Homo sapiens: one gene and its partners. The protein of the gene in region 4 purifies or fractionates together with the protein of the main gene of each other region. This does not show direct contact. Each region holds a gene or a part of one and is shown on either strand. Other genes may lie near its edges. The genes, in order: SDF2, TKT, BCAT2, C11orf54, COL10A1, WDR1 and SERPINB5.

Region 1 (5,027 bases), on a different chromosome or scaffold from region 4:
AGCCTGGGTGACAGGGCGAGACTCTGTCTCAAAAAAAAATTAAAAAAATAAAGAATTGTTACCTGTGTGTGCTTACTCGTGTATATATTACATATCTATAAATTTTTATTTGCATAGCCATCTGTATCTACATATATTAAGTTAAATGAGCTTTCTTTTTCTTTTTCTTTTTTTTTTAAGATGGGTTCTTGCTGTGTTATTCAGGCTGGAGTGCAGTGGCTACTCACAGGTGTGATGATAGTGCACTAGAGCCTCGAACTCCTTGGCTCAAGCAGTCCTCTTGCGTCAGCCTTCCAAGTAGCTGGGGATACAGGCATGCCCCACTGTGCCTGGCTAGTGTTCTTATTGATGTCTTTAGCTGTAATCCATTACCACATAGATCGTCCTAGCCTCCTCCCTGTGCTAATTTGTAAATTCCCACTCCAACAGTAAGATACCTTGTTCCTACCATCTGCCATCCATGTATTGAACTTCAGTTCAGTTCCAGTATACAAATATAGCAGTATCAGAATTACATACTGGTACCCTCCTGGGAACAATTTTATCAAGTAGAGTGTACACACACACACACACACACACTTCTGAAATAATCAGTAATTTTTTAATTGCCATCGTATAGAAACTGAATATTTGGCCTTAAGGAAGATGGGATTTAGATGAGGAGTAGAATATAGAGAACTTGCTTTCTCTCTCACTGCCTTATTAGAAAGAAAGAAAAGAATGTAGAAAACTTGCTATGTTTTGCTCAGTTAATATTTGCTATCTCATTTAATTCTCACAGTTGCTCTGTAAGGTGATATTGTGATCATTTTATAGAGGAGAAAACAAAGGCTCAAAGGATTTACAGAAGAAGGGATCAAGTTGAGATTCAAGGTCAGCCTGACTCCCAGAGTCCATTCCCTTTTGAACTTGTCATCAGGTCATTTAAAATCTAGTTAAGAGAATGAAGCAGTAATATTTAAAGTCAAATAACAAGAGATATAAAGTATTTTAAGGGCAGAATGTGGTGGCTCATGCCTGTACTCCCAGCACTTTACTACGCTGAGGTAGGTGGATCACTTGAGGCTGGGAGTTTGAGACCAGCCTGGTCAACATGGTGAAACCCCCATCTCTATTAAAAAATACCAAAATTAGCTGGGTGTGGTAGCACATGCCTGTAATCCCAGCTATTCTGGAGGCTGAGGCATGAGAACCCAAGAGGTGGAGGTTGCAGAGAGCCGAGATTGTGCCATTGCACTCCAGCCTGGGCGACAGAGCGAGATGCTGTCTCAAAAAAGTAAAGTATTTTAAAGCCAGCACGGTGGCTCACACCTGTAATCCCAGCACCCTAAAAGACCAAGTGGGGAGAATCGTTTAAGTCCAGGAGTTAGAGGCCAGCCAAGGCAACACAGTTGCCTACCAAAAAACTTTTAATTACCTGGGTGTGGTGGTATATGCCTGTTGTCTTAGCTACTCAGGAGGTGAGGCCATAAGACCACTTGAGGCACTGCACTCCAGCCTGGGCAACAGAGCAAGATACCCTAACTGTTTTTTTTTTTTTTTTTTTTTTTTTTTTGAGACAAAGTCTCACTCTTGTCATCCAGGCTGGAGTCCAGTGGTGCAATCTCGGCTCACTGCAACCTTCGGCTCACGGCAACCTCCGCCTCCCAGGTTCAAGCGATTCTCCTGCTTCAGCCTCCCGAATAGCTGGGATTACAGGCGCCTGCCACCACACCTGGCTAATTTTTGTATTTTTAGTAGAGATGGGGTTTTACCATGTTGGCCAGGCTGGTCTTGAACTCCTGACCTCAGGCGATCTGCCCGCCTCGCCCTCCCAAATTACTGGGATTACAGGCATGAGCTACCGTACCTGGCCACAATCCCAACTCTTAAAAAGAAAAAAAAAAGAAATTCTGTTTTAACACTGTAATAGAAAATATAAGGCAATTATAGTATTAATTGCAAAATAAGTGTTTGGACCATAATCTTTTTTTTTTCCTTTCTTTTTGATGCCATGACTCAGATAAGAACCATGGACCATAATCTTATAGCAATGAATTTTTTTCCTCCTATGTCCTTTATGTCTTTCGTCTTTTTCCATGGTTCATGGTTTAAACAACACTGGAGTGGCCGGGCACGGTGGCTCATGCCTGTAATCCCAGCACTTTGGGAGGCTGAGGCGGGAGGATCACCTGAGGTTGGGAATTCGAAACCAGCCTGACCAACATGGAGAAACCCTGTCTCTACTAAAAATACAAAATTAGCCGGGCATGGTGGCACATGCCTGTAATCCCAGCTACTAGGGAGGCTGAGGCAGGAAAATCACTTGAACCTGGGAGGCGGAGGTTGTGGTGAGCCGAGATTGCGCCATTGCACTCCAGCCTGGGCAACAAGAGCGATACTCTGTCTCAAAATAAATAAATAAATAAATAAATAAAATAACAACACTGGAAAGCAGCTGAATTTTTTTTTTTTTTTTGAGATGGGGTCTTGCTCTGTAATCCAAGCTGGAGTGCAGTGGTATGATCACAGCTCATTGCAGCCTTGATCCCCTGGACTTAGGTGATAGCTGTAGTAGCTGGGTACCATAGGCATGTGCCACCATGCCCAGCTAATTTCTTTTTTTTTTTTCTTTTTTTTTTTTTGAGACAGAGTTTTGCTCTTGTTGCCCAGGCTGGAGTGCAATGGTGTGATCTCGGCTCACCGCAACCTCCGCCTCCCGGGTTCAAGCGATTCTCCTGCCTCAGCCTCCCGAGTAGCTGGGATTACAGGCATGTGCCACCACACCCAGCTAATTTTGTATTTTTAGTAGAGACAGGGTTTCTCCATGTCGGTCAGGCTGGTCTTGAACTCCTGACCTCAGCTAATTTCTTTTGTATTTTTTTTAGGGATAGCGTTTCACCATGTTGCCCAGGCTGGTCTCAAACTCTTGGGCTCAAGTGATCTGCCCTGCTCAGCTTCCCAAAGTGGTAGGATTACAGGCATAAGCCTGGCCCCTCTGATTTTTTACTTCAAGGTGGCCTTCTTTTTCTTCCCATTGCCTCCCACCCCTTTTCAAGCCCTTGTCAGCCATGCTGATGTTACTACCTTCTGTATTTTCTAGGAAGTGAGTGCTTTTGGTGAGGAAGGTGAAGGTGATTATCTGGATGACTGGACAGTGCTCTGTAATGGACCCTACTGGGTGAGAGATGGTGAGGTGCGGTTCAAACACTCTTCCACTGAGGTACTGCTGTCTGTCACAGGAGAACAATATGGTCGACCTATCAGTGGGCAAAAAGAGGTGCATGGCATGGCCCAGCCAAGTCAGAACAACTACTGGAAAGCCATGGAAGGCATCTTCATGAAGCCCAGTGAGTTGTTGAAGGCAGAAGCCCACCATGCAGAGCTGTGAATCTAGAGGCTCTGAGCCACTGTTAACGCACAATGTTCACAGACATCTGTTGCTGCCTCACCTTGGGATCCCTGCCACAAGTTCCTTGGGCAGTGGCCATGTCACCATTGAGATGAAGATATACAACAGAAAATAGTGGCTGTGTTTGGAAGCTTCAGCCCTGCACATTTGAACTAGTCACTCTCCCAGACTTGCGTGGGTCAGTTCTTTCTGAGTAGAGGACTTGCTGGTAAAGGGGCAGATGCTTTTTATTAGTACTGATAAAACAAACTGAGGGAAACATCCCTCTTAGCTGGGAAACTTTTACTCTTCAGGAGCTTGGCATCATGGACTGTTAATGTATGTGATTTTCCCCCTATTTTCTCTCTCCAAAATGATAAAAACAATAATTTTATTATGAGTCACTGTGTTGTTATTTATTAGGTGTGCTATTTCATTAGCTGCTTAATCCTTTGAGTCCTAAGACTCTTTGGAGACGCTATGAAGCTCCAATGTGGGCCCTTTTAAGAGCTTTTCTTGCATACAAACCTTTTCTCCCTCTACTTTGACTTCTCTCCAGGCATCTCATCTTTAATAGATCTTTGACTAATTATAGCTAAAAACTCTCAGAGAATACAGCATAATAAATAGCCAGTGAAATGTTTGCTTTGTATCTGTTACTGCAGATGAGAAAAAGGTGTAGGGGTAGAAAGAACGAACCAGTATTTATTCACTGCTAAATACTAGGTACCATATTATAGATCTTTTTTTTTATTTATTGTTTTTTAGACAGAGTCTCGGTCTGTCGCCCAGGCTGGAGTGCAGTGGCGCGATCTCGGCTCACTGCAAGTTCCACCTCCTGGGTTCACAACCATCCTCCTGCCTCAGCCTCCCAAGTAGCCGGTGCTACAGGCACCCGCCACCACGCCAGGGTAATTTTTTTGTATTTTTAGTAGAGACAGGGTTTCACTGTATTAACTAGGATGGTCTCGATCTCCTGACCTCATGATCCGCCCGCCTCAGCCTCCCAAAGTGCTGAGATTACAGGCGTGAGCCACCGCACCCGGCCTATAGATCTTACCTCATTTAATCTTCACAGAATTCATATAGGGTAATACTGCATTTTTATCAGTGCAGCAGTTGAGTAACTGCCTGAATTCTTTTTTTTTTTTTTTTTTGAGACAAGTTCTTTGCTCTGTCACCTAGGTGGGAGGGGCACAATCATGGCTTATTACAGCCTTGACCTCCTGGGCTCAAGTTGATCCTCCTGTGTCAGTTTTTGATTTATCGTAGAGATGAGGTCTCACTATGTTACCCAGGCTGGTCTGGAACTCCTGGGCTCAAGTGATCCTTATGCTGTGTCTTCCCAAAGTGCTGGGGATTACAGGAGTGAGCCACCATGCCTGGCCTACTGCCTGAATTCTTTTTTTTTTTTTTTTAAGATGGAGTCTCACTCTGTCGCCCAGACTGGAGTGCAGTGGTGCAATCTCGGCTCACTGCAACCTCCGCCTCCCAGGTTCAAGTGATTCCCCTGCCTCAGCCTCCTGAGTAGCTGGGACTACAGGCACCCGCCACCACACCTGACTAATTTTTGTATTTTTAGTAGAGATGGGGTTTCACCATATTGGCCAGGCTGGTCTTGAACTCCTGACCTTTTGTGATCCGCCCACCTTGGCCT
Region 2 (4,466 bases), on a different chromosome or scaffold from region 4:
CCTGTGGTAGAGAAAGAGCCAGGTGCAGCTTCAGTCTTGGGGTCAAGAGCTAGTCTTGGAAGCTTGGGGAGAGCCTGTCCCAGGAAGCGCCTGGTCCTCAAGTGCCCTCTGCTCTATCCTCCCCAGAGCCCTCTTGCTCCAGGGTGTTGCCTAGAGTGCCTCAGGCCTCCTTGGCCCACCTCCCTCCTCCGGGCAGAAGCAGAGCTTGGTTCCCAAGGTTCCCCTTTCCCACTGGCCCACCCAGCCAGTCCCAAGGCCTCCTCCAACCTCTGGTTCACAGCGGGGTCTGTCCCCTGCAGCAGGTGGCTCAAGCCTATTCACCCACCCTTCCTCACTTTCCTCTCATTCCAACAACCCCCATTTTTCTAGATCTTATTAGCCAGATCCCTGTTGTCCTAGACCTCTGTTTCTTAACAACCAGTACTTCTTCCTGAGCTCCTGACGTCTTCCTTCATGCCATTTTCTCTTGGGGTGTGGCTTGTGGTAGGCTGCAGGAACCTGGTGACACTGTTGCCCCTCGAGTGTAAATGCCATCTGTTCTGCATATCCATGCGTGGCTGCTCCTTTACCCAGAATGCAGGCTCCTTGGATGGGTGGGGGGGTGGGAGCCAGCTGGGTCCAGGTGAGAGGGACTGGCCTGATTCACTCTCTGTCCACAGCTACCGAGTCTATTGCTTGCTGGGAGACGGGGAGCTGTCAGAGGGCTCTGTATGGGAGGCCATGGCCTTCGCCAGCATCTATAAGCTGGACAACCTTGTGGCCATTCTAGACATCAATCGCCTGGGCCAGAGTGACCCGGCCCCACTGCAGCACCAGATGGACATCTACCAGAAGCGGTGCGAGGCCTTCGGGTATGTACGAGGCTGTGGCCTGAGTGTGGTCACAGCACGGGAGAGTGGTCTGTGATCACAGCTTTGCAGGTGCAGGTGCAGGAGCTGAAGCTGGGACCTTAAGCACCATCTAAAGGTCCCTTTCTTTAGCATTTGACTCACAATTTCAAACTCTAGGCATTTGGACTTAATGGCTCAGGATATGTGGGCCAGGCCCAGTTTTAAGTGAGTTTCCTTGTTTTCGTGGTTGTGGCATGGTGGCTCTCGGAGCTTCCACACACCATCTCACGTCAGCTCGCTTTGTTCTTGAGGAAGGAGGGTTCTTGAGGGATGGGGGCTTGCTCGGTAAAGCTAAAGGATGTATAGCTGCGGAGAGGTTTGAACCTCAGTTTGGTGGCCACGTCCTGTGCCCAGCCCCGCCCAGCCTGGGGAGGAGGAACAGGCTCCTGGTGAAATGGGAGATAGGGTTTCCAGATGCCCCCCTTCGGCCTTGATTGGTTACAAATTCAGGGTCAAAGGGCACAAAGCAGGGAGGTCAATCTGCATGGGTGTCAGCCAGAGGGGCTCCACCTCAAAGCCTCCACCGGTGTTGCCAAACACAAGCTGCTCTGCACAGGGGCCCAGCATTGGCTGAGGAGGCTGTGGAGGGGAGGGAGCAGGGCAGGTGCCGTGCAAGGCTTTGAGACTCAGGTCAGGCCTCCAGGACTGCGTTTTGCGGATGAACCCATGCCTGTGACTACACTAAGTAACAGGATGCTTGGGGTTACCTTGCAGTAGCACAGCATACGCAGGCCTGTGTTCCCTGATGACTGACCTCAGAAAGGGAGAGGAGGAAGGGAGGAAATAATCTCTGTTGGACAGGCGAGGAAACTGAGCCACAGGGTCCTCACCCCACAGGCCTCCCCAAGGCCACATCTATCTGGGGACTCAGAGTACAACCCCAGCAGCACCCCCAGGACCTGTGTCCATAACCTCGTGACTCAAGCCAGATTCCTGAAGTCCTGGCTCCACCGCTAACTTGCTTTGTGGCGTGGGTCACGTTACTTACTCCACCTTCGGTGTCTCAGTTGATTTGTCTGTACAATGGGGCCAGCTCAGCACCCAAGCATGGCGTGGTGAGGCTTCAGTGGGCTAATATGGGTAGTGGTTGGCATGGCACTCAGTTTGAGAAGTGCTATTTTTATTCTTATGTCAAAAAGAGTCCCCAAAAGGATAGCTTTTCAAGAGAAAGGGTGCTCTGCCCCAGCTCCTTCCTGTATATTTGACTCCATGGTTCATTTCAAAAACATTTCCAGCACCACATCCAGCATCTGTGGAGTGATCAAATGTGTTCCCCAAATAAGAATTGGGCCAAAAAATTCATCAAGAATCTAATAGCAGACAGATTCCAAACCCAGTGCGCTGACCCCAGAACAGCTTTCAGTAGGAAATGAGCAGATCAGGAATGAAAGAGACAATAAAGGAACTGAGCTCTGGATTACTTAAGAGGAGGAGGAAAACCTGTTCAGAGGCAAACAAAAGGAAGTAAAATAATGTGAAAAAGAAAAGGATTTAAAAAACCCAAACTGGAAACAGGAATGTTGCAAGCTTTCTACTACTCCAGCTGAGGCCGCAGTTGTGGGGTGGAGCCTGGGCAGACCCCAGCTGCCAAGGCAGACCTTTCCCTGGAAGGCTCCTCGGTGTTGTGGCCCCTGGGAATTGCCCCTTACTCTCTGCCCCCTGTCCCCAGTTGGCATGCCATCATCGTGGATGGACACAGCGTGGAGGAGCTGTGCAAGGCCTTTGGCCAGGCCAAGCACCAGCCAACAGCCATCATTGCCAAGACCTTCAAGGGCCGAGGGATCACGGGTCAGTATGCACAAGCCGCCCTCCCCACCTTCACCCCTCGCCCAGACACTGTGGCTACGTAGCTCTGACCCGCACATCCAGGGAAACAGCCCTTGCTGCTCACTGAGCTCACCAGGCTCCAGGGAAGGGGAGCGGGAGATGCTGTGACTCAGTGACCCCTGTGGCTGAGCCAGGATTTAAACTCAGATCCGTCTGGCCTCTGCCGGTGGGGGCATGTACAGGCAGGAGGAGAGGAGGGACTTGGAGGGTCTGTGGGTGAGAGGAAGGTCGTGGAGTGAGGCAGCCCCCGTGCCCCACCCTGGCTGGTGCCTTTCAGAGCTGCAGCTGTGTGTGCTCTGCCAGCTCCGGCCACCTGCTCCAGCTGAAGGGCCGACACAGAGCCAGGCAGGGCCCGGAGAGAACTGTTCCCTCCAGGAGGTGAGTGGGGTACTCCTCAAGCAATGGCAGATGCTGAGCAAGGCCTGTGTGGGCCAAGAGCCTTGGGGGGTTTGGAACCTGGGTTCTGCCCCAGGCCGGAGAATGAGGCAGGCGTAAGTCACTCCCTGGCACCCAGGTGTGGGCTTCAGATTCCTAGGCCTGGGATGGCCTCACCCATTTTAAAGATGGGAAAATGAGACTACAAGTGGTCAGGGACTTGCCCGGGGACAGAGGAAGTCTATGGCACGAGGGGGGCTGATCCCAGGGCCTGGGTCGGCTTCCCTGCCAAATGCCCCTGGCTGCCCACCTGCCTGCTCTCAGGGGTTGTGGCTTGTTCTGCCCATGTAGACTCAGGTATATGAGGATGTTCTGAGTGGGGGTTTGGCAGTGCTGGGAGGTGTCTGGGAGGGGGTGGATGTCGAGGAAAGGGCTCTGGGATATTGTCATGGCTTTGGTGCTGCTGCCTGGCACTGCCCTCTGGTGTTAAAAATGGGCAGGATCTGGACCACTTGCAGCTTCTTGGGGGCTCCTGCTAGTCTTTCGGGCTGCTGGGTGCTACCTGGGAGTTCAGTCTGTTCTTGGCTCTGGCCAGACTCTAGTGACTACTGAGGTGACCTCCAGGGAGAGGGATATTCAGCCTTCCTGGCCGCACACAACAAGGTGCCATGGGGTGGGCATGCCTAGGTGCTTATAGACTCCTCTGCTGCTCACAGATGCATTGGGTGACCCTGGAAGCCCTGTTCTGGGCCTTGGGTTCCCCTTCTGATGGCCAGGGTCCCTTCCAACCCAGTCGACAAACTGAGTATTTCTGCAGCAGACACCTCTACCTGTGTGTGACCCTGCAGGCGGGGTTGTGGGGAGGAAGAGAATGGACACATTGGTGAAGGGATGGGGCAGTGGGCCCAGAAACACACACCTGCCCACGTCTGGCCCCTCCTTTCCCACTCAGCTGTGAGCTCCCAAAGGACCAGGCAGTAGACAGTGAGTGGTGGGCACGTAGGAGTCCATCCTATTCACTGCGACCCTCCTTTCCTGGCCCCCGTGCCTGGCTGGGCTCTGCCTGTCTGGGATGATGCCATTCCTCCCTTGCCCTCGGCAGGTAGAGGGCCAGTCTCCTGGAGCAGCCTCCTGGCCCTCTGGGAGCTTCTGTCTTACCCATTCCTCTGTCCTCCCGTGTTGGGTCTGCAGGGGTAGAAGATAAGGAGTCTTGGCATGGGAAGCCCCTCCCCAAAAACATGGCTGAGCAGATCATCCAGGAGATCTACAGCCAGATCCAGAGCAAAAAGAAGATCCTGGCAACCCCTCCACAGGAGGACGCACCCTCAGTGGACATTGCCAACATCCGCATGCCCAGCCTGCCCAGCTACAAAG
Region 3 (4,199 bases), on a different chromosome or scaffold from region 4:
TTAAGAGCCACCCCCTTCCCCCATCCCAGAATCCCTGGGGCCTGTAACCTGCCAGGAATGATGGTGCCACCCACTTCCACCAGGGTTCGGGCTGGGTCATGGGTGGGCTTACCCCCATCTTCGTGGGTCCAGTAGACAAAGATGTTCATGGTTCCCACCTCGGTGAGCTGGTGGTCGGGCCCATACAGCCAGAGGACCTGTTCACAGCCCCGCTTGAGTGCCTCCTGTTGCACTAACACGGTGGGCCCATAATTCCTGGTGGAGGGCAGTCTGGTTGGGTGGGGCAAGGGAGCCCCATCCTTCCCCAGCCCAGCCCCAGAGGAGGCTCATCCTACTCTCTCCCGTCTCCCTGCTCACAGCTCTCACAGGGCTCCCCAGTTCCCCTGAGATGGAATCCTTGACTTTTCATTTGGCATCAGGACCCTAAATGGTTATGTCCCCTCTCTCCTGTCTCTTCCCACTTTTCTTTCTTTTCTTTTCTTTTTTTTTTAAGACGGAGTCTCGCTCTGTCACCCAGGCTGGAGTGCAGTGGTGCGATCTTGGCTCACTGCAACCTCCGCCTCCCAGGTTCAAGAGATTCTCCTGCCTCAGCCTCTCTTGACCTGGTGATCTGCCCGCCTCAGCCTCCCAAAGTGCTGGGATTACAGGCGTGAGCCACCGCGCCCAGCCCTCACCCATTTCATACTGACCAAATCCTCAGCTGTCATTCAAAACCATTTCTTTTTTTCTTTTTTTCTTTTTTTTTTTTTTGAGACAGAGTCTTGCTCTGTCGCCCAGGCTGAGGCTAGAGTGCAGTGGTGCGATCTCAGCTCACTGCAACCTCCGCCTCTCGGGTCCAAGCGATTCTCGTGCCTCAGCCTCCTGAGTAACTGGAGTAACTGGGGCATGCAGCACCATGTCCGGCTAATTTATATTCACATTTATATTTATATGCCCGCCTCAGCCCCCCAAAGTGCTGGGATTACAAGAGTGAGCCACAGCGCCCGGCCTTACTTTTTATATTTTTAGTAGAGACGGGGTTTCACCATGTTGGCCAGGCTGGTCTCAAACTCCTGACCTCAAGTGATCCGCCTACCTCGGCCTCCCAAAGTGCTGGGATTACAAGCGTGAGCTACCGCGCCTGGCTCCAAAACCGTTTCTGTTGTCACCTCCTCGAGAGGTGTTTCCAGACCTCCAGGCTGGGTGCTGGACCTTCCCTGGACTCCCCCAGTGAACTGGGCTACCTGGATGACTTTCTGAGTCTCTCTCCCAGAGATAGCCTCTCCCCTCAGCTGCTAACAAGCCTCCCATGGCTCCCCAGTGCCCCAGGACAAGACCCTAGCCTCCTTCCGGCATTCCAGGCCTGCCTGGGTCTAATGAATACTTGCTAAGCATTTTTCAAAACCCAAACTTATTTTTGTAACCTGAACATCTTCTGTGATCCTATTCCTTCTGTCCCTGTACACATGGTTCCCAGGACTGGAAACAGTTTGCTGACTTTTGTACCCAGGAAACCCCCTCCTCCCTCCTCGTCAGACCTAGTTGAAGGGTCGCCTCCTCTGCGAAACCTTTCTTTTTTTTTTTTGAGATGGAGTTTCGCTCTGTCGCCCAGGCTGGAGTGCAGTGGCGCGATCTCGGCTCACTGCAAGCTCTGTCTCCTGGGTTCTCGCCATTGTCCTGCCTCAGCCTCCTGAGTAGCTGCGACTACAGGCGCCCGCCACCAAGCCCGGCTAATTTTTTTTTTTTTTTTTTGTATTTTTAGTAGAGATGGGGTTTCACTGTGTTAATCAGGATGGTCTCGATCTCCTGACCTCGTGATCTGCCCGCCTCAGCCTCCCAAAGTGCTGGGATTACAGGCGTGAGCCACCGCCTCTGGCCTCTGTGAAGGCTTTCACAATGCCCTGGGTCACCTCACCAGAGAACATGCAGCTCCGAATACTGGGGCTCCCACCAGCCTGGGAGACCCAGGAGAGCAGGGCTCGGGGCTGACTCATCTGTGTCCCCAGCTTCTGCCAGCACAGGGCCTGGCCCTCAGGAGACCTCACAGGATGTGGCTGAAAGGACCTGAATGCACCCCCAGCTGGGGCCACATTCCTGTCCCAACACGCCAGTGCCCACCCTCTGCCTTGGTTGCCCAGGAGACCCAGCTGTCTCCTTCCTGCCCTGCTGAGCTGAGGCCACTGGGAGACAGATTTACACAGAAAGTCCACACGGGGGTGAGGGGCTTTGGAGGCTCAAACGACTGTGGGAGCTGGGTATGGGGAGCGCAGCCCAGCCTGGGGGATCAGGGGAGGCTTCTGGGGCGAGAAGCCAATGAGCTGAGTGTAAGCTTCACTCCTGGAGGCTTCCAGGGACCAGTCCTGGTTTCCCCACTGACCTCCACCCAATGCCTTCCCATCTGTGAGCCTTTTTGTCCATCTGAAAAATAATCCCCTCCTCCTTCCTTCCATGGTTTGTTTTCAGGGACCAGGGAGGTCACTTAGCACTGAGCCCTGCACGGTGCTGATGATGTCACCTTCATGTGACATCCAGAGGCATGGCCGAAAGCACGCACGCTGGTCCCTGTGTCTCCAACGCCCAGTGCGCCAGTCGTTCTGGGGATGGGGGTGCTACTTACCCACCTAACTTGTAGTTGCCGACCCCGCCCACCCAGGCCCGGATGAAGGCTGGGTCGGCCAGGAGGGAGACCGGGGTCACGGAGCCTCCAGGGAAGTAGGCACCCACTGGGCAGAGAATGACGAACAGGAGCGCGCGCGTGGGCTGGCTGACACCCAGCGAGGGCTGCGACGGGCAAAGGGACAGCGTCAGGAGTCCAGGCCCCCAGTCCCTTCCCGTCCCCAGGCCCAGGCCTCCAGGACCCCACCCCTGCCCTGCAGAATCCAACCCCCGCAGCCCAGCTTCCCAGCCCTGGAGTTGGGCCCACCTCGTTCCCAATGAGCACAGGCCGCACATAGAGGCTGGTGCCGGCGGCATCGGGGACCCAGTCCTTGTCCACTTCGATGAGCCGGCGGATGCACTCCAGCAACTCCAGCTTGTCGAAACTCTGGGTGGGATTCTGAATGAGTCAAGGGGCCCTTGCTGCCCCGGCCCCAGCCCTCCTCCCCACCCCGGTGGACCGGGACCCCTCACCGGCAGGCACAGGCGCATGGCTGAGCGCAGCATCCGGTCCATGTTGAGCCAGGGGCGGAAGAGGCGCACCTGCTGGTCTTTGCCTTTGAACGCCTTCATGCCCTCAAACAGCTGCGGGGACACGCGGGTGGGGAGGCTCAGAGACTTCTCCAGACAGTCATGAGAGACACCAAGACAGACAGAGACAGATACACAAAGACACAGACAACTGAAAGATGGAGGCCAAGAGGAGAGCACCGGGGAGATTTAGCAGCTGGGTCAGAGAGATGGAGAAAAAGAGAGACAGATATAGACAGGGAGACAAACAGGTAGAGACACACGGAGACTCTAGAAAGCAAAGGACACGACCGGGCTCAGTGGCTCACTGTAATCCCAGCACTTTGGGAGGCCGAGGCAGGAGGATCACTTGAGTGTAGGAGTTCGTGACCAGCCCAGGCATTATAGCAAGACCCCATCTCTACCAAAAAATACGAAAATTAGCCAGACGTGGTAGCACGTGACTGGAGTCCCAGGTATTTGGAAGGTGGTGGGAGGATCACTTGAGCCTGGGAGTTTGAGACTGCAGTGAGCCACGATCATGCCACTGCACTCCAGCCTGGGACCTAGTTTTTTTTTTCTGGAGACTCTGTCCCTGATCACTGCCCCATGGTTCCAAGTTTGCTTGTTCAGCATCTGCTCCACTGCAGAGTGGAAGAGCCTGGAAGGCAGGGATTACCCTTGACACGTTTACCAGACAGCCTCTCCTGCAGTCCCATGCACCAGGGTAGGCAGCGCTTGGCACAGAGTGTTTTTTTGTTTTGTTTTGTTTTGTTTTGTTTTGAGACAGGGTCTCACTCTGTCACCCAGGCTGGAGTGCAGTGGCGTGATCTCTGCTGATTGCAACCTCCGCCTCCCAGGTCCAAGTGATTCTTGTGCCTCGGCCTCCTGGGTAGCTGGGATTACAGGCGCCCACCACCACGCCCAGCTAATTTTTGTATTTTTAGTTGATCCACCCGCCTCAGCCTCCCAAAGTGCTAGGATTACAGGGGTGAGCCACTGCACCCAGCCAGACTTTTTTTTTTTTTCCCATAGTGGGTTTTTGATGAATGAAT
Region 4 (4,466 bases):
ACTAACCATTTTGGCTGGGCATGATGGCTCACACCTGTAATCCCAGCACTTTGGGAGGCCGAGGCGGGCACATCACTTGAGACTGGGAGTTCGAGATCAGCCTGGCCAACATGATGAAACCCCGTCTCTACTAAAAATACAAAAATTAGCCAGGTGTCGTGGTGCACACCTGTAATCCTAGCTACTTGGGAGGGTGAGGTATGAGAATCGCCTGAACCCGGGAGGCAGAGATTGCAGTGAGCCAAGATTGTGCCACTGTACTCCACACTCCAGTCTGGGCGACAGAGCGAGATTCCATCTCACACACACACACACAAAAAAAAAAAAAAAAAAAAAAAGATTAACCATTTTTCCTTCTTTCTTGTACTCTTCTGTCTCCTGACCTTTATTTAATTTTAGTTAATTACTTAATTAGCAGGGGAAATACATTACACTCATATTTTTAAAAAAATCAAGGCTGGGCGTGGTGGCTCACGCCTGTAATCTCAGCACTTTGGAAGGCCGAGGTGGGCGGATCACGAGGTCAGGAGATCGAGACCATCCTGGCTAACACGGTGAAACCCTGTCTCTACTAAAAATACAAAAAATTAGCCAGGCGTGGTGGCACATGCCTGTAGTCTCAGCTACTCAGGAGGCTGAGGCTGGAGAATCGCTTGAACCTGGGAGGCAGAGGTTGCAGTGAGCTGAGATTGCGCCACTGAACTCCAGCCTGGTGACAGAGTGAGACTCTGTCTCAAAAAAAAAAAAAAAAAAAAAAAACTATAAAAAAGTACTATGCTAAATCCTTTGAAGAAGCTAAAAGAAATTGCCACATGGTACACAAGCCTTCTAGAATTTACAGCTCTACTTAAAATCAAAGATTGTTTAAGCTGTAAAGGCCCCCAAAAAACATTCAATTCAAATCCCCTCATGCTAATGTTATCTCAAAGTCAGGTTTGTTCTAAGACAGAACTAGAGTCCAGAATTTCTATGGCAAACTCCTTTTTAGCAAAGATGTTAATTACATAATAAAAAGAACACTTTGAGTGTTTATCCTCAAATTCCTCATCATAATAGGGTATAACAGGAGGGGGTTAGACTTTGGAAACAGACTTGCATTTGAATCCTGGTTATGATTTACACTGAGCTTATCTAGCCTCTCTCGTTTTCAGTTTTCTCATCTATAAACAAGGGCTACTACTTACCTTGTGGTGTTATTGTAAAAACTGAAACATCAACTAACTATCTATCATACTGACAAATTATTTTATTCTTCTAATACTAATTTCCCTTCCTTCTCACTTCAAACAGTGGATGCTCACTTGGCAAATTTGTTGAAGGATTAGTTTTAACAGATCATTCAAATACAAGGCTTTTAGGATCCCTTCTGGTCTTGAATAAATAAAATCATAAAAATTAAAATCAGTTTCCATAACAGTCTGAGCAATTAAAAGCAAAACTCTCGTGTGATACAAAGAATTCTAACCTATTGGATATCTATTCTACAATCTGTGAAGGTTACATAAGTGAATAAAACACAATCCTTTTCCACAAGAGTATGAAATGAAATTTAACCAATATCAGAAGAGTGAGCACAGAAATTTGGCACAATTTAGCCTAAATGTTGTGACAATATCCTTTATTTGTAGATAATTTAAGATGTCCTTAAAAATAATTCTAGTTTCAGAAAAAGATTATGACTAAAAAACAAAAGCTAATTGCAAAAATTGCTTACCTTTTACAGGAAAGGTAAAGGGTTCCTTAGTCAAATCAGGGCAATCAACTACAGAGACCTGGACATCAGCAAAGTTATCTTTTAACCCCTTCTGCATAACTAATAAAGACAAGGAATAAGATTATTTAACATTAGGTAAAAACTTGGCTACCACGTATCAAAAGTGGTATGTGGCTCTCAACACACTCCCAATCTCAACTTGTATAATAAAAAAGAAGGGGGAAATGGTCTTATTAATGAATATAATTAGACATTAGACATAATCACAAGATACAACGTAGACTAAGATATATAAATACTTCCTCTACAGTGATTTTCAACTGTTGAAGATAAACAGCCTGCACTTGTGTGAGGGTGAGGATTACCTTCTTTTTTGAGAGAAGATTCCAAAAACCAACTGAAATGCAAACATTTAAACTTTTTAAAAAGTAAGCAATCACATGTAACAACTTCAGTGAAGGTAACAGACAATATGTTGAACAAAGCAGCCAGACACAAAACACTACATACAATATTACTTCACCTTATGCATCTCAGAAACAGGCAATGGATCAAGGCTGACTGGGAAGGTGTGCAAAGGAGCCTTCTGGGATGTTGGAAATATTTTACATTTTGATCTGGATAGTAGTTACATAGGTGTAACTATTGTTAACATTCATCAAGCTGTACACTCAAGATTAGCATACTTTACTGTAGATAGTTATACCTCAGTAACAATGTAAAAAAGCATAGGTGTCTCAAAGTTATTAATGTAAGACCAATGTATTTCCCTCTCTCTTTTTTTCTTTTATATGTAGAGACCAGGTCTTGCTATATTGCCCAGGCTGGTCTCGAACTCCTGGACTCATGTGATCTTCCTGCCTTGGGTCCCCCAAAGTGCTGGGATTACAATGAGCCATCACACCTAGCCTCAACAGTTTTTTTTTTTTTTTTTTTTTTTGAGACAGAGTCTCACTCTGATAGCCTTACCTACCCTGTCGCCCAGACTGGAGTGCAGTGGTATGCAGCATGATCTTGGCTCACTCAGCCTTGATCTCCAGGCTCAAGTAATCCTCCCACCTCAAACTCCCCAGTAGCTGGGACTACAGGTGGATGCCACCATGATTGGCTAATTTTTGTATTTTCTGTAAAAATGGGGTTTTGGCTTGTTGCCCAGGTGGCTCTCAAACTCCTGGGCTTAAGAGATCTGCTCACCTTGGCCTCCCAAAATGCTGGAATTATAGGCATGAGCCACTGCATCAGCCTATGTACTTTTAAGGATCAAAAGTTCTTACAAAATGTCTTTTTTTTTTTTTTTTTTTGAGATGGAGTCTCACCCTGTCACCCAGGCTGGAGTACAATGGCGCAATCTCGGCTTACTGCAACCTCTGCTTCCCAGGTTCACGCCATTCTCCTGCCTCAGCCTCCCGAGTAGCTGGGGTTACAGGCGCCCGCCACCACACCCAGCTATTTTTTCTATTTTTAGTAGAGACAGGGTTTCACCATGTTGGCCAGGCTGGTCTTGAACTCCTGACCTCGTGATCTGCCTGCCTCAGCCTCCCAAAGTGCCGGGATTACAGGCATGAGCCACCGCACCTTGCCAATTTCTTTCTTTCTTTTTTTTTTTTTTGAGACTGAGTCTCGTGTTGTTGCCCAGGTCGAAGTACAGTGGCGCGATCTTGGCTCAACGTAACTTCTGCCTCCCAGGTTCAAGTGATTCTTGTAGCTCAGACTCCTGAATAGCGGGAATTACTGGCACACACCACCACACTCAGCTAATTTTTGTATTTTTAGTAGAGATGGGGTTTTGCCATGTTGGCCAGGCTGGTCTTGAACTCCTGACCTCAAGTGATCTGTCCACCTTGGCCTCCTAAAGTATTGAGATTACAGGCATGAGCCACTGTGCCAGGCCATAAAATTTCTACTTTTTCTGAATATATCCTGCACATATAGAAGGAAAATAGAAACAAACACAAAAGTGAAAACAGATTCTAGAAAAGCAATCAAAGAAAAAATCTGGCCAAGCATGGTGGCTCATGCCTGTAATCCCAACACTTTGGGTGGCCGAGGCAGGAGCATCGAGTGAGGCCAGGAGTTCAAGAGCATCCTGGGCAACAGAGCAAGATCCTATGTCTACAAAAAGAAAAAAGAAAAAGAAAAAATTCCTAACTGCCCTGTCATATTAGGGAAGACAGACTGATGAAAAAGAAATACAGGCCAAACAATACAGATTGTTTATTAGCTACCATTCAATTAGGGAAAAAAAAAAAGATTATAAGAGGAAAGTTACAACAAAGCAAAAATGAGTCTATTTCTTAACTTCAATCTTATCAGGATGACAAATGAACTACCAGAACATCACATTTTGAGAAACAAGCGAAGGTTCTATAGTTACCATTAGAACAGAACCTAGAGGTTGTTAAATAAAGGTTAGTATTCTGACAGACTTTACAGTTTTGGATAACAACTATTCCTGGCTTCATTTTTGTACTCGTTTTTGTTTTCCTTTTTTTGACTATCTTCCCTCCTAATTTATCTTGGGAAACTGCCTTAAATCAAAGCAAGTTCACTGGCAGTCTGTCATTATCAGTGGTGGGGGGGAATTATATTGGGAATATGATTAACATACAACAGTAGAGTATACATTTAAAGAATAATGTAAGTGAAAAAAGTTAAAGCAAAATTTTGCGACTCTTTGGGCATCACACATGCTTAAGTCTTGGATTACTAATCATTTACATCTTGTAAAGTTGGTATCATCAATAATCTATAA
Region 5 (3,328 bases), on a different chromosome or scaffold from region 4:
CTTTTGAATGTCTCAAAATATAAATAAAAATTTTAAAATTTAAAGGCTAGTAAAGAAAAAAATAAAAGACAAAGCAACCTTCCGCTTTACTTGAAGCAACAAACACAATTTGAAATGCTATGACAAACAGCACTGGATTCAATAGTTTCCATGATCACAAAAATCAGACTTTTTAACACCTTAATAAGAGCATAACAAAGTCTTGAATTAAAAAGAAAATGCACTATTTTAGAAGGTTAAAAATACTTTGATCTTCTCTTAATATACACCATTATCTTGGCTACTTTTGCAGAACAAATGAAAATATCTTAACAAATGAAAAGTTCAGAAGCTGTATTTAAACTACTAAATCCACCTTAGTCTCTTTTTAGATAGACACTCAACTACACTATCATCCATTGGCAGACATTAATGCACCATAACAAACACAAAAGCCCACAGTCTATACAAGTAAGACATTAAGTTGAAACAGGAATTCAAAGAGTTATTACATAATTCCTAGGCATATCCATCCAACACAGGTTAAAAAAGAGTTCTGTCAAAACATACTAAATTATGCTGCAGAGGATTCCACAGCTGGTGGGCAGATGCACGTGCCACATTCTGACACAACCAATCACGATTTCAGTTTGTGGCATTTAAAAAACTTAATAGAAGGAAGTAGTCGTTTTACCTTGAGGATTGTGCCACCCTAATCTTGAATGAAGAAAATTTTTTCAGATGACAACCTACAAACAGGGGCTGTCCCCCAAGCATTCAATAGAAGCCAAATTCTTTCTCGCACTGAGAAGTTGAGACCCATTAGGACAACATTCCAAGTGACAAAGTTCGCCCTGTCACTGGAGTTCCAGTCTCGGATGACGCCCAATGCACTCATTTCCATTGACTTGTTTCTCCTTTTTAATAGTAAAACAGATTTCCAATCAGACTAAGACAATTATTTTTAGTGTGAACATGACCCTTATAATCAGATTCTAAAGCAAAGCTCAATCTAACATAGTTGGCATTTTAAAAAATCCACTATTTTATTCCTCCAACCCATTAAAAAATTCCTTATTTATTCCTCTATTTGCAATATATCAATATCCACTTATACATAATATAATCATGTATGTACACTACAATCAATGAAATATTTAATATACGGAAATCTTTTACATAAATTTTTCTCACAGTCTTTTTCCTGATGTCATTTTCTGAAAATCCATGGGGAAAGCTCTATGTATTTATATTAATCAATGTTTTCAAATTGAAATATAACTCTAATTAGTAAAAAAAAATCTAAATCTGAAACAATTATTTTCCTATTTCGGCATATCTATTTTAATGATTCGCTCTGCATTTATATACACCAAATGTTTTCCAAATCTCAGAAACATCTGTACCCTGTGCTTTCCCCATACTTGTGGCCCAGCCGCATTTTTCACATCACAGGCACTATGATTTTTAGTTTAAGTTTAGTTTATCAGGTCAAGTGAACTCACAGCTCTATGAAATCAAACACTATATATTTGTATTTAGGTAAGAACTTTAATACTATTTTATGTACCTCACCTATTATGTCTAATTCTCTAGTTCTTTGTTTCAATTTTAAGTCAATAATGGAGAGTATAAGAGCTCAGAGTATATTCTGAGGTAAAAGTAAATCAACCAAAATCTAACCTGTGTTCAGCAGAGGCATGGCAGATGTAAATCAGAATTAATTCTGTTTCTCTTTTATGTCTGACAGGGTAGCTTTGGGAGGGAAAATTTTTATAGTTCTTAAACATTTTCTCACTTATTCTGCACTGTCTTTTTCTGCCTTTTCTGTACATGATTTTCCCAAAATAAATGTACTAAATTTACCTCCACTGCACTTATTCTAGAGGAATTCTTCAATCCTAGCTCATTTTCATGAATCACTGTCATGGGATAAAAGTATTATGGTAGCCATGGTTTTGTGAAACCATCTTCTCCAGCAGAATTTTTTAAAACAGTATAAAACATATAATCTAAAACCATTTCAGACTGTTCTGTCTACATGGAATAAATGATGCTGAAATATCGTGTCCCAATTCATAGTTTGAAAGGCAATGATTCTCTTTAATGTCACTAACCATCCCCTTCTATGGGTGGGTGTGTTGGGTGTGTCTTTTAGGTATAGCAGTAAGAGGAGAGCAAGGTACTCCTGGTCCACCAGGCCCTGCTGGACCTCGAGGGCACCCAGGTCCTTCTGGACCACCAGGAAAACCAGGCTACGGAAGTCCTGGACTCCAAGGAGAGCCAGGGTTGCCAGGACCACCGGGACCATCAGCTGTAGGGAAACCAGGTGTGCCAGGACTCCCAGGAAAACCAGGAGAGAGAGGACCATATGGACCAAAAGGAGATGTTGGACCAGCTGGCCTACCAGGACCCCGGGGCCCACCAGGACCACCTGGAATCCCTGGACCGGCTGGAATTTCTGTGCCAGGAAAACCTGGACAACAGGGACCCACAGGAGCCCCAGGACCCAGGGGCTTTCCTGGAGAAAAGGGTGCACCAGGAGTCCCTGGTATGAATGGACAGAAAGGGGAAATGGGATATGGTGCTCCTGGTCGTCCAGGTGAGAGGGGTCTTCCAGGCCCTCAGGGTCCCACAGGACCATCTGGCCCTCCTGGAGTGGGAAAAAGAGGTGAAAATGGGGTTCCAGGACAGCCAGGCATCAAAGGTGATAGAGGTTTTCCGGGAGAAATGGGACCAATTGGCCCACCAGGTCCCCAAGGCCCTCCTGGGGAACGAGGGCCAGAAGGCATTGGAAAGCCAGGAGCTGCTGGAGCCCCAGGCCAGCCAGGGATTCCAGGAACAAAAGGTCTCCCTGGGGCTCCAGGAATAGCTGGGCCCCCAGGGCCTCCTGGCTTTGGGAAACCAGGCTTGCCAGGCCTGAAGGGAGAAAGAGGACCTGCTGGCCTTCCTGGGGGTCCAGGTGCCAAAGGGGAACAAGGGCCAGCAGGTCTTCCTGGGAAGCCAGGTCTGACTGGACCCCCTGGGAATATGGGACCCCAAGGACCAAAAGGCATCCCGGGTAGCCATGGTCTCCCAGGCCCTAAAGGTGAGACAGGGCCAGCTGGGCCTGCAGGATACCCTGGGGCTAAGGGTGAAAGGGGTTCCCCTGGGTCAGATGGAAAACCAGGGTACCCAGGAAAACCAGGTCTCGATGGTCCTAAGGGTAACCCAGGGTTACCAGGTCCAAAAGGTGATCCTGGAGTTGGAGGACCTCCTGGTCTCCCAGGCCCTGTGGGCCCAGCAGGAGCAAAGGGAATGCCCGGACACAATGGAGAGGCTGGCCCAAGAGGTGCCCCTGGAATACCAG
Region 6 (4,466 bases), on a different chromosome or scaffold from region 4:
TGAGCCGAGCCCAGCCCCAGGGGATGCCATTCCTTGATTTCCTGACCTGCTACCCTCTTGCGCTCCCCTCCTGCCGCCACTCATGGGGCTGGCTCTGAGGCACAGCTGTGCCCTCCTCGGCACTCCCTCTACCTCACTGTCCACAGTCTTGTGGGCACCCGGGCAGTGAGGTGGGGGAAGTGCCGAGGAGGGGAGGGGAAGGCTCCAGCCCTGGGTGGCAGGAGATGGCGTGGCTGGGCCCCAGAGCAGGTCCCACGCCCCGACTGCCCCCATCCTTCCCCTGACCCCTCGCCTTCCCTGAGACAGCCCCGGTACTCACACAGCTCACACTGTCCCCAAATCACCCAGATACCAAGGACAGAGAGCACGGGGGAGAGGAAAGCGACTTACCACACCCCCAATTGCCACCGTGTCCCCGCCGGGGTGCACTGCCACAACTTCGGGCTCGTAGCCGGGGTTGTCGATGCTGAAGCACTTCCTCTGATCCTTCAGCAGGACAATCTGTGGCACACACAGGCAGCTGGTCAGGCGGTCCAGCCCTTCGGGACAAAACCCTCAGTGGTAGGAGGGGCGCGTCCCTGTCGGGGCTCACTGGAGCTGGGTTTGGCTCCATACCCAACCTCTTTGCAGGGCCACCTGGGGCTCTGAGCCACACCACCTGGACTCATGTCCCGTTTGACAGTTGCTCTAGCCAGTCAGGTGGGGCAGGAAACACAACTAACTGTGACCATTACTGTCATCACTACATTACTTCCAAGGCAGTCACCACAGCACCACCTCTTGGAAAGTCACTTGGCCTCGATGGGAATCAACGTTCAGGGTAAGAAAGGTACTAACAACAGTAAACAAAAACAGCGACAGCCCCTAGGCACGTGCCAGCGCTCTGCTGTGAGTGTTCCAGCCCCACAAGGCAGGGATCGGGTTCCCCGTTTCAGAGAAGAAAATGGGGTACGGTGCTTATGCTGCACGCCCAAGGCTCCAGTTCCCACAGGCTGAGCCGGGACTCGCCCAGAATCCAAGCCTCGGCACCCGCACTGGGCCTTTGCCTCTGGTACATGCAGCAGAGGCTCTGCAGCGGGGGCCTTCCTTCCATCTCCCTTCCTTGTCAATTCTTCCGGTTCTAACTTACTCAACTGCTCCCAGACAGTGGCCTTCATCTCTGAGTTTTGCCTTTATCCCAGTGTGCCCCTACCCAAGCCACCAGCTGTCATGAGGGAAGGCAGCCTCTGCCCCTACCGTCTGGGCTTCTGTTTCTGCGTGGATTGTGGGTGGATCGCGATGAATGGTAGCAGCACCCTGACTAAAACCTACTACTGAAGAGGCACCTCTGTCATCTGCCCGGCTCTGGAGGTGGCCTTACCTACTCACAGGTGAAGAATGAGGGCCTAAGCATTTGCCTGAAGCTTCGTCCGACATGAGACTTGAACCTGGTTGTTTCCTGATCTAAAATCCCAGGCCCCTCCTAGCACCCTCCTAACTCTTTGACTGGTGACAGGGAGCTCTGCAGAAAATTCTGACCCAGAGCAGGGGTTCCAGATGCCCTGGGAGGATCAGGTAACAGCAGATCACAGAGAAATGCCACATGAGGAGGTGCAGAGACCTGGAGCCTGTCCCCTGCACACCACAACCCTACCGGGGTCCTTTCTAACCTCCTGGGCAGCAGGCGCCAGCTGGGCCAGTCTGAACATCCTCTCAGCCTCAGGGGAAAGGGTGGCCTATGATGACCACAACTTTACAGATGAGGAAACCTGGGTCTGGAGACACAGGGCACGCTGCCCTAGGCCTCATCCCCTCACCCACAAAGCCCCATGTGCAGACCCCTTGGCTGGGAAGAGCCCTGCTGTGCAGAGATAGGCCACCTGCCAGCCTTCTAGAACTCCGCTTTGTAGCGTTTCCCCCAGGCCCCGAGGCGCTCCATGTGTGGATTCCCTTTGCACCTCCCCACCCCCACTGGCTGTCCAGGCTGTTTGCAATAATTACTTGGCAGGGATTTCTTATTATCTAGGACACAGAGAAATCCACTGTCCCTAACGCAATTAAGTTCACAAGGCAAAGGAGGGCCAGAGGGTGCTGAAAGCAGCTTTCTTTAGCAGGGCTCGCCACTCGTGCCAACAGGTGCCCCTTGACTTCCCCGGTCTACATGCCAGCAAGCCTAGGCCCGCCAACAGATAATATCTTCTGCAGGGCAGAATTCTGTATAAAGTGGGTCAGGCTTGGGTCTCAGGTGGCTTTGGTCCAGATATTCCAAAGGTGTGCAGGTGGCCCCACTGTCTGGGGTTAGAAGCCAGGCCGGGAAGTCAGGTGCCACCCTTCTGCATGTGGGAAAGTACCAAGCTGCTCTAGGCCTCAGCCTCCTCATCTGTAAGAGGAACCAAGATGGTGTAAGGAGACTTACATGTACTTCCTCATAATCACCTGGATCTGTGAGTGCTGGGGATGGGAAACTAAGGCTCAGAGAGGGTGAGGTAAATGCCGGAGGTCACACAGCTACAATGCAGCAGGGCTGGGATGTGAACAGGAGCAAAGGCAGGCCCACCCCACAGGGTATCTCATAGACTTTACAGGCTGACAGGCAGGCAGCGTGGTCTGAGGCTTAGAGACAAATCCCAGCTCTGCCCTCCGACCAGCTGCGGCCTTGGACAACCAATTTATCCATTCCGTGCCTCCATTTCTTCATCTGTACAACTGATGTGATGGTGGTGAGGATTAAATATGTGAGATCCCTTAGTGCAGTGCAAATGAGCACTCAACCAAAACACTGGCTAGAGCAACTGTCAAACGGGACATGAGTCAAATTCAGCAAGCAGGCACCACACAGCTGCAGGCTCCCACCCAAACACTAAGCCAGGTCCCTACCTGTCCAATGCACACGACCACGGCGTATCCCCCGGGGCCGACGGCTACGCACTTTGGCTGAACGTCCAGTTTCACAACTCCTTGTCCGCTGTTAGAGAGAAAGGAAGCACATTACTTCGACAATGCAGCAGCTCAGGGTAGGTATGCATACATATTTACTGTTAAACCACAGTTTTGCTCCTTAGAAGGCAATTCTATTGCCACCTATACTGGAGAGACTTGCTAAAATATGGGATGGTAGCGAAAAAACGATCCATGACTCTGGTGCAAAGAGATTATAAGTCATAATGGGGGCCCGGGGAGGGGTGGGGGGGGGGGAAGGAGGGGCGGGAGGCGGTGAAAGGCGTTGATTATGCTCCTATTTATCTGTGGTAAGCCCTCATTACACCCAGATGTGGCTTTTGTCCCCCTGTCTGTTGGCTAAAGACTGGAGTTTACTGAGCACAGACAGAATTGAGCTCTGCTCCCCAAAATGGATGGGTAACTTTTAAGAATCCGTTACCTTTAATGGGTGAAAATCATGTTATTTTTAGCCTTGGCCAATGCTATCAAAACTTGTTCTAGAAAGACTCATACACACAAACTTCTTGAAAACTGAGATAATCAAGGAAATTTCTGTGTCACTCGGCCAAGTGTGGCATCCCCAAAGGCTCTGCAGCAAGGTCACCAGGCCAAGGCTGGCTCTGTAAGGGCCTTGCCTTGGGTTATCTGGCCCAGGGAAGACCCTTTTATGGGACGTGTTAAGAGTGGGGTCACCACAGGGCAGTAGAAAGAGGACCAGGGCCCAGATGCCTGGGCTCTGGGGCCGCTTCTGCCACTCATCGGGAGGCCCAATTTACCTACAGATGCCCAGTCTGCCAGGCAGGCAGGGCCTGTGTTACCTACAAGGACGGCACACCTGCTAGGAGTTGCGTGCTGCACCCTGTGCCAGGCTCCCATCAACAGGCCCCAGGAGTCCCCATCTCCCAGGCAACACGACTTAGGCAGGACTACCGGGTGACAAAGGGGTCTACACAAGAAATGTAGGGCCAGAGGAGGGGTCAGACCTGGGCATGGGGACACTGGATGTGCAGTGGCCTCGTCAGGTCCTGGAACATTTCTCTTTCAAGTCCCTCCAACTGCATTTAGGACTTCAGATCACTTGCAAACTGCTACTCTCCTAGCTCCACTGACTGCCAATCAAAGGCCCAAGACCAAAAACAAACAAGACATTGTCTTTTAACCAGATCACTGTGTGCCCATCTCACCCTTGAGCAGAAGGGGAATGCTGTCTTGTACTCAGCACCTGCCCTGTGCCAGGCTCACCTAATCCACAACAGCCTGAGGCAGGCTCCACTGTACCCGCCTTTACTGATGAGGAAAGGGACACAGGGAGAGACCGCAGCAGGTTCCTGGAGAACAGGGCTGTGATCTGCTGCCCCTGCTTCCAGGGCAGAGTCCACACCTGGTCGTTGTCTGTGGGCAAGAGCATTACCCAGACCACCTGGATCTGTAACACAGTGCTGGGCTCAGGGCCCAACAACAGGAGAACAATGCTGGGGACGGGGTGGGAGAGATGAAAGGAGCAAGTGAGGCGTCCTCCAGAACAGTAACTGCTGGAGGGCACAAGC
Region 7 (4,466 bases), on a different chromosome or scaffold from region 4:
AAGGCCTGGGCAGTGCTTGGACATAAAAGACCTGAACGATCAGACCCTTCCATGGGCTCCCTTTAAGAAGAGCAGGGAGAGACCAAGGGCTAAAGTTGGGAGACTGAGAAAATGCAGCCCACCGGGGCATTACTTATTTCTCCAGCTCTGATCCGCTGTTGTACTAGGGGTCTAATCCGGCCTGTGTCTGCCTCCTTCTTGAATAGCCCAGAGCATTCATCTAAACAGCCTTCCTACAGCAGCTCCCCACTTTAGGTGTGGCCAGACAGGAGTTCTAGACCAGGTTGTCTCCTGGGACATTGACACCGCAGCCAAGTTTATTGGTGCTGAGGCAGACACAGTTGGTGTGGTTGGTTCAGGGGCTAGCATTGGAATAGCGTTTGGCAGCTTGATCATTGGTTATTCCAGGAACCCATCTCTCAAGCAGCAGCTCTTCTCCTATGCGATTCTGGGCTTTGCCCTGTCTGAGGCCATGGGGCTCTTCTGTTTGATGGTCGCCTTCCTTATCCTCTTCGCCATGTGAAGCTCTGTGGGGGTCACCTGCCTGTCCCTGCTGCTGCGGCTGCACACCATTCTTGGTGCTGGGCTGTGCTAAGCTTTACCATTGAACACAACGTTTCTGAAAAAAAAAAAAAAAGAGCCAAGCATACAGTGGAGCTCAAAGGGACTTAGAGATAATTTTAAAAAGACTTAGAGATAATTTTAAAGAACATTTTCCTTTTTAAAAATTATGCAATACTCCAAGCATTCAGAAAATGATAGAGAATAATAAAACGAACACCCATATACCGATCAATCATCTTTTTGAACTTAATATTTTGCCTTAATTATTTCAGATATTTTAAAGAAAAAATATAACAACAGTTGCATTGCTTTGTATGTATCCCTTCACTGCTCACTCCACTGTCCTGTTCCTCTTTCTTCCTCCCCAGTGGTAACCATTATTCTGAATTTACAATTTCTTCATTCTACTGACAAGAATACTGAGGCCTGGAGAGATTGAGTGATTTGCTCAAGGCCACAGAATCTGTTTATGTCACATTTGGGACTAAAAACCAAGGTTCTTATCTTCAATTTAGACTTTGTTAATTAGCTCAGATCTGAGTAGGTGGCAGTACAGTGGGGAGTGGGCAATTCAAACCAAAGACAAACAGAGAGGTCACAACAAATATTGTTTTGTTCTGCTATGTGCTAAGTTTGTTGTTGTTATTGTTCTGTTTTGTTTTGAGATGGAGTCTCGCTCTGTTGCCCAGGCTGGAGTGAGTGCAGTGGTATGATCTTGGCTCACACCAACTTCTGGCTCCCAGGCTCAAGCAATTCTCCTCCCTCAGTTTCCCAAGAAGCTGAGATTACAGGCGTGTGCCACCATGCCTGGCTGACTTTTGTATTTTTTAGTAGAGACAAGGTTTCACCATGTTGGCCAGGCTGGTCTTGAACTCCTGACCTCAAGTGGTCTCCCAAGGTGCAGGATTACAGGCATGAGGCACCGTGCCCAGCCAGTTTTTGAAATTAGGCATTTTATTAGGAAAAGCCGTATAAATGGTTATGTGGGTTTGCAGTAGAATTTACTTTCAAGTCAGCTCCACCAGGAATAGTTTAAAGATCTCATAGGCATCTGTAAAGAATAACAAACGTTGCCTATATTTACAGCCATACAGTCTTATTTTTAAGGTTTGATCTATGCAAATACAGTATTATATATACTTCATGTAATGTGTAACATGTAGATTATAAAGTATATGAATAACTTTTCAAAGGAACACAAACTCTTCACAGGACAGTCTCTGGTTTCAGTGCAATACAGTTTGGATCTGAGTGGATGATGAATTATAAGCCATAATAATCTGACACTGTGTCAAGAGCAAATTTGTGTATATATATATATGTACATATATATTTATGTGTTTGCCTATATATGTGTATATATGTGCATGTGTGTATATATGTATGGGGTATATATATATAGTATGTATATATAAGTGTGTATATATAGGTGTGTGTATATGTATATGTATGTATATGTATGTATGCATATATATGTATATGTGTATATATAGGTGTATGTATATATGTATGTGTATCTGTATATATATAGGTGTAGGTATATATGTATGTGTGTCTGTATATATACATGTGGGTATATATGTGTGTGTGTGTGCGCGCGTGTGTGTATATATATATATATATATATTTATGCATGTGTAAATTGAAAAGTAAGCAGTCCAAATTTTCCCTTTTACAGACAGACACCAAACCAGTGCAGATGATGAACATGGAGGCCACGTTCTGTATGGGAAACATTGACAGTATCAATTGTAAGATCATAGAGCTTCCTTTTCAAAATAAGCATCTCAGCATGTTCATCCTACTACCCAAGGATGTGGAGGATGAGTCCACAGGCTTGGAGAAGGTAAGGAGAAGGCAGGTGCTCTCCACAAAGGCACCCCCTGCCTTGGCAAAGAGTTGTGCCAACAGGTCTGTGTGGGCCGTGAGAGCTGGGCCGGTAGCCCTCCCTTATTGCCACTGGCTCAGTCACCTCCAAGGACCCATGGTTCTTTCTGGGGCCTTTCCTCCTTAATATTAACAACAGCCAAAATTTATTTGGCACTTACAGTGTTCTAGGGACTGTGCTAAGTTGCCTACGTGCATTATCTCATTTAATTCTTACAGCAGGCTGATGAGTTAGAGACTGTTACCACACTCTTGTTTACCAGTGAGGGAGCTGAGGCACAGAGGGGTGGGTAACTGGTTACATAATTAGTCAAGGGTGTGTGCAGGATCAGGATTTGGGCCCAGGTAGTTGGAGCCAGGTTCTTAACTGAAGGCTAGAGTGTCTCCCTCACCTCCTAGGCAGTTAAGGCACTACGTTGCTACGCACTGCCAGGTCCACTATCATGTGACCTGATGTCAAGCATCCTCTCTCTTGCTCTTTCTTTTTTTTTAAAATTAGTAGATGTTATTTTTAGAGTAGATCTATGCCTACAGAAAAATAAGCAGAAAGTACAAGGAGTTCCCATATACTCCCCTTCCCGTCCCAGGCCTACAGTTTCACCTGTTATTAGCATCTTGCATTAGTTTGGTATGTTTGTTACAATTGATGAGCCAATACTGACATATTACTATTATTATTATTATTATTATTATTATTGTTTTAGAGACAGGGTCTTGCTCCATTGCCCAGGCTGGAGTGCAGTGGCATGATGGTAGCTCACTCTAACCTCAAACTCCTGGGCAGGCTGGAGTGCAGTGGCATGATGGTAGCTCACTCTAACCTCAAACTCCTGGGCTCAAGTGATCCTCCTGCCTCAGCCTCCCAAGTAGCTGGGACTAAAGGCACACAGCACTATGCCTGGCTTTTTTTTTTTTTGTAAAGGTGGGATCTCACTGTGTTGTCCAGGCTGGTCTTGAAATCCTGGCCTCAAGCAATCCTCAGCCTCAGCCTCCTGAAGTGCTAGGATTATAGGCATGAGCCACCACACCTGGCCTTCACAATTTACGTTACGGTTCACTCTTTGTGTTGTACATTTATGAGATTTTAATACGTACACATATATGCTTCAAAATTTTGAATTATGCAGATACTATTTTATAGTACACATTATATATAAGTATTTTATTTTATATGATAAGGGTTATTATATTATTTTATTTATATAGATTTTTAAGGCACAAAGTTTAAATAAGAGTAGCAGTTTTCTCTGCAGGTGAATGGAGTTTTAGCTTCCTCTCTGCTCCCTCACCTCTGCTTAGCTGGCTGAGGCCTGTTCTCCCTTTAGTCCCTCCCTGGCTTCCATTCTAGCTCCACCCCGCCTGGCCTCAACCCTTGGCCAGGAAGGAAGAAGGGGCTCTTTGAAGGCCTGGATCACTTGCTATATATCCACATGGGCCTCAGTGATTTGCTGACTTTCCAGGGGACCATCCAGTCTCCAGCTTGCTCCTTTGGTTGCCATTATGTTTTAGCCACCACTTTATTAACTGAATTATAATTCCTGTCCTTCTTCTTCTTTGGTGCATTACTCTCTCTGTTTTTTTTCTTTCCATTTTATGCTTTGATCTTTCAGCCATTATCCAGCTGTCTTGGATTTTACCTTTCGTTCTTAAAACGCCCTCCAATAAACATCAATTATTTTCTTCTTCTTCTTCTTTTTTTATTTCAATAATTTATTTTTCTTTTTTTTAATTATACATTAAGTTTTAGGGTACATGTGCACAATGTGCAGGTTTGTTACATGTATATACATGTGCCATGTTGGTGTGCTGCACCCATTAAGTTGTCATTTATATTAGGTATATCTCCCAATGCTATCCCTCCCCCCTCCCCCCACCCCACAACAGGCCCTGGTGTGTGGTGTTCCCCTTCCTGTTTCCAGGTGTTCTCATGGTTCAATTCCCACCTATGAGTGAGAACATGCAGTGTTTGGTTTGTTGTCCTTGTGATAGTTTGCTGATAATGATGGTTTCCAGCT

The links.
Region 1: the proteins of C11orf54 (region 4) and SDF2 fractionate together in Homo sapiens (co-fractionation; one large-scale study listed by BioGRID). This does not show direct contact.
Region 2: the proteins of C11orf54 (region 4) and TKT fractionate together in Homo sapiens (co-fractionation; one large-scale study listed by BioGRID). This does not show direct contact.
Region 3: the proteins of C11orf54 (region 4) and BCAT2 fractionate together in Homo sapiens (co-fractionation; one large-scale study listed by BioGRID). This does not show direct contact.
Region 5: the proteins of C11orf54 (region 4) and COL10A1 purify together in Homo sapiens (co-immunoprecipitation; one large-scale study listed by IntAct). This does not show direct contact.
Region 6: the proteins of C11orf54 (region 4) and WDR1 fractionate together in Homo sapiens (co-fractionation; one large-scale study listed by BioGRID). This does not show direct contact.
Region 7: the proteins of C11orf54 (region 4) and SERPINB5 fractionate together in Homo sapiens (co-fractionation; one large-scale study listed by BioGRID). This does not show direct contact.

What each region holds. Positions count from the first base shown.
Region 1 is NC_000017.11:28,647,332-28,652,358, reverse strand, and holds the end of SDF2 (stromal cell-derived factor 2 precursor), read left to right. Parts: intron 1-816; coding exon of another isoform or gene 817-873; intron 874-3,082; coding exon 3,083-3,370; 3' UTR 3,371-4,013; downstream 4,014-5,027.
Region 2 is NC_000003.12:53,231,368-53,235,833, reverse strand, and holds part of TKT (transketolase), read left to right. Parts: intron 1-659; coding exon 660-851; intron 852-2,559; coding exon 2,560-2,678; intron 2,679-4,283; coding exon 4,284-4,466. UniProt on the Homo sapiens protein: Catalyzes the transfer of a two-carbon ketol group from a ketose donor to an aldose acceptor, via a covalent intermediate with the cofactor thiamine pyrophosphate.
Region 3 is NC_000019.10:48,797,079-48,801,277, forward strand, and holds part of BCAT2 (branched-chain-amino-acid aminotransferase, mitochondrial isoform a precursor), read right to left. Parts: intron 3,220-4,199; coding exon 3,109-3,219; intron 3,023-3,108; coding exon 2,903-3,022; intron 2,761-2,902; coding exon 2,597-2,760; intron 256-2,596; coding exon 113-255; intron 1-112. UniProt on the Homo sapiens protein: Catalyzes the first reaction in the catabolism of the essential branched chain amino acids leucine, isoleucine, and valine. May also function as a transporter of branched chain alpha-keto acids.
Region 4 is NC_000011.10:93,747,693-93,752,158, reverse strand, and holds part of C11orf54 (ester hydrolase C11orf54), read right to left. Parts: intron 1,814-4,466; coding exon 1,715-1,813; intron 1-1,714. UniProt on the Homo sapiens protein: Exhibits ester hydrolase activity on the substrate p-nitrophenyl acetate, in vitro. Regulates DNA damage and repair by regulating HIF1A degradation via chaperone-mediated autophagy (CMA).
Region 5 is NC_000006.12:116,120,771-116,124,098, reverse strand, and holds part of COL10A1 (collagen alpha-1(X) chain precursor), read left to right. Parts: intron 1-2,137; coding exon 2,138-3,328.
Region 6 is NC_000004.12:10,078,501-10,082,966, forward strand, and holds part of WDR1 (WD repeat-containing protein 1), read right to left. Parts: intron 2,945-4,466; coding exon 2,857-2,944; intron 502-2,856; coding exon 391-501; intron 193-390; exon of another isoform or gene 111-192; intron 1-110.
Region 7 is NC_000018.10:63,496,878-63,501,343, forward strand, and holds part of SERPINB5 (serpin B5), read left to right. Parts: intron 1-64; exon of another isoform or gene 65-626; intron 627-2,242; coding exon 2,243-2,410; intron 2,411-4,466. UniProt on the Homo sapiens protein: Tumor suppressor. It blocks the growth, invasion, and metastatic properties of mammary tumors.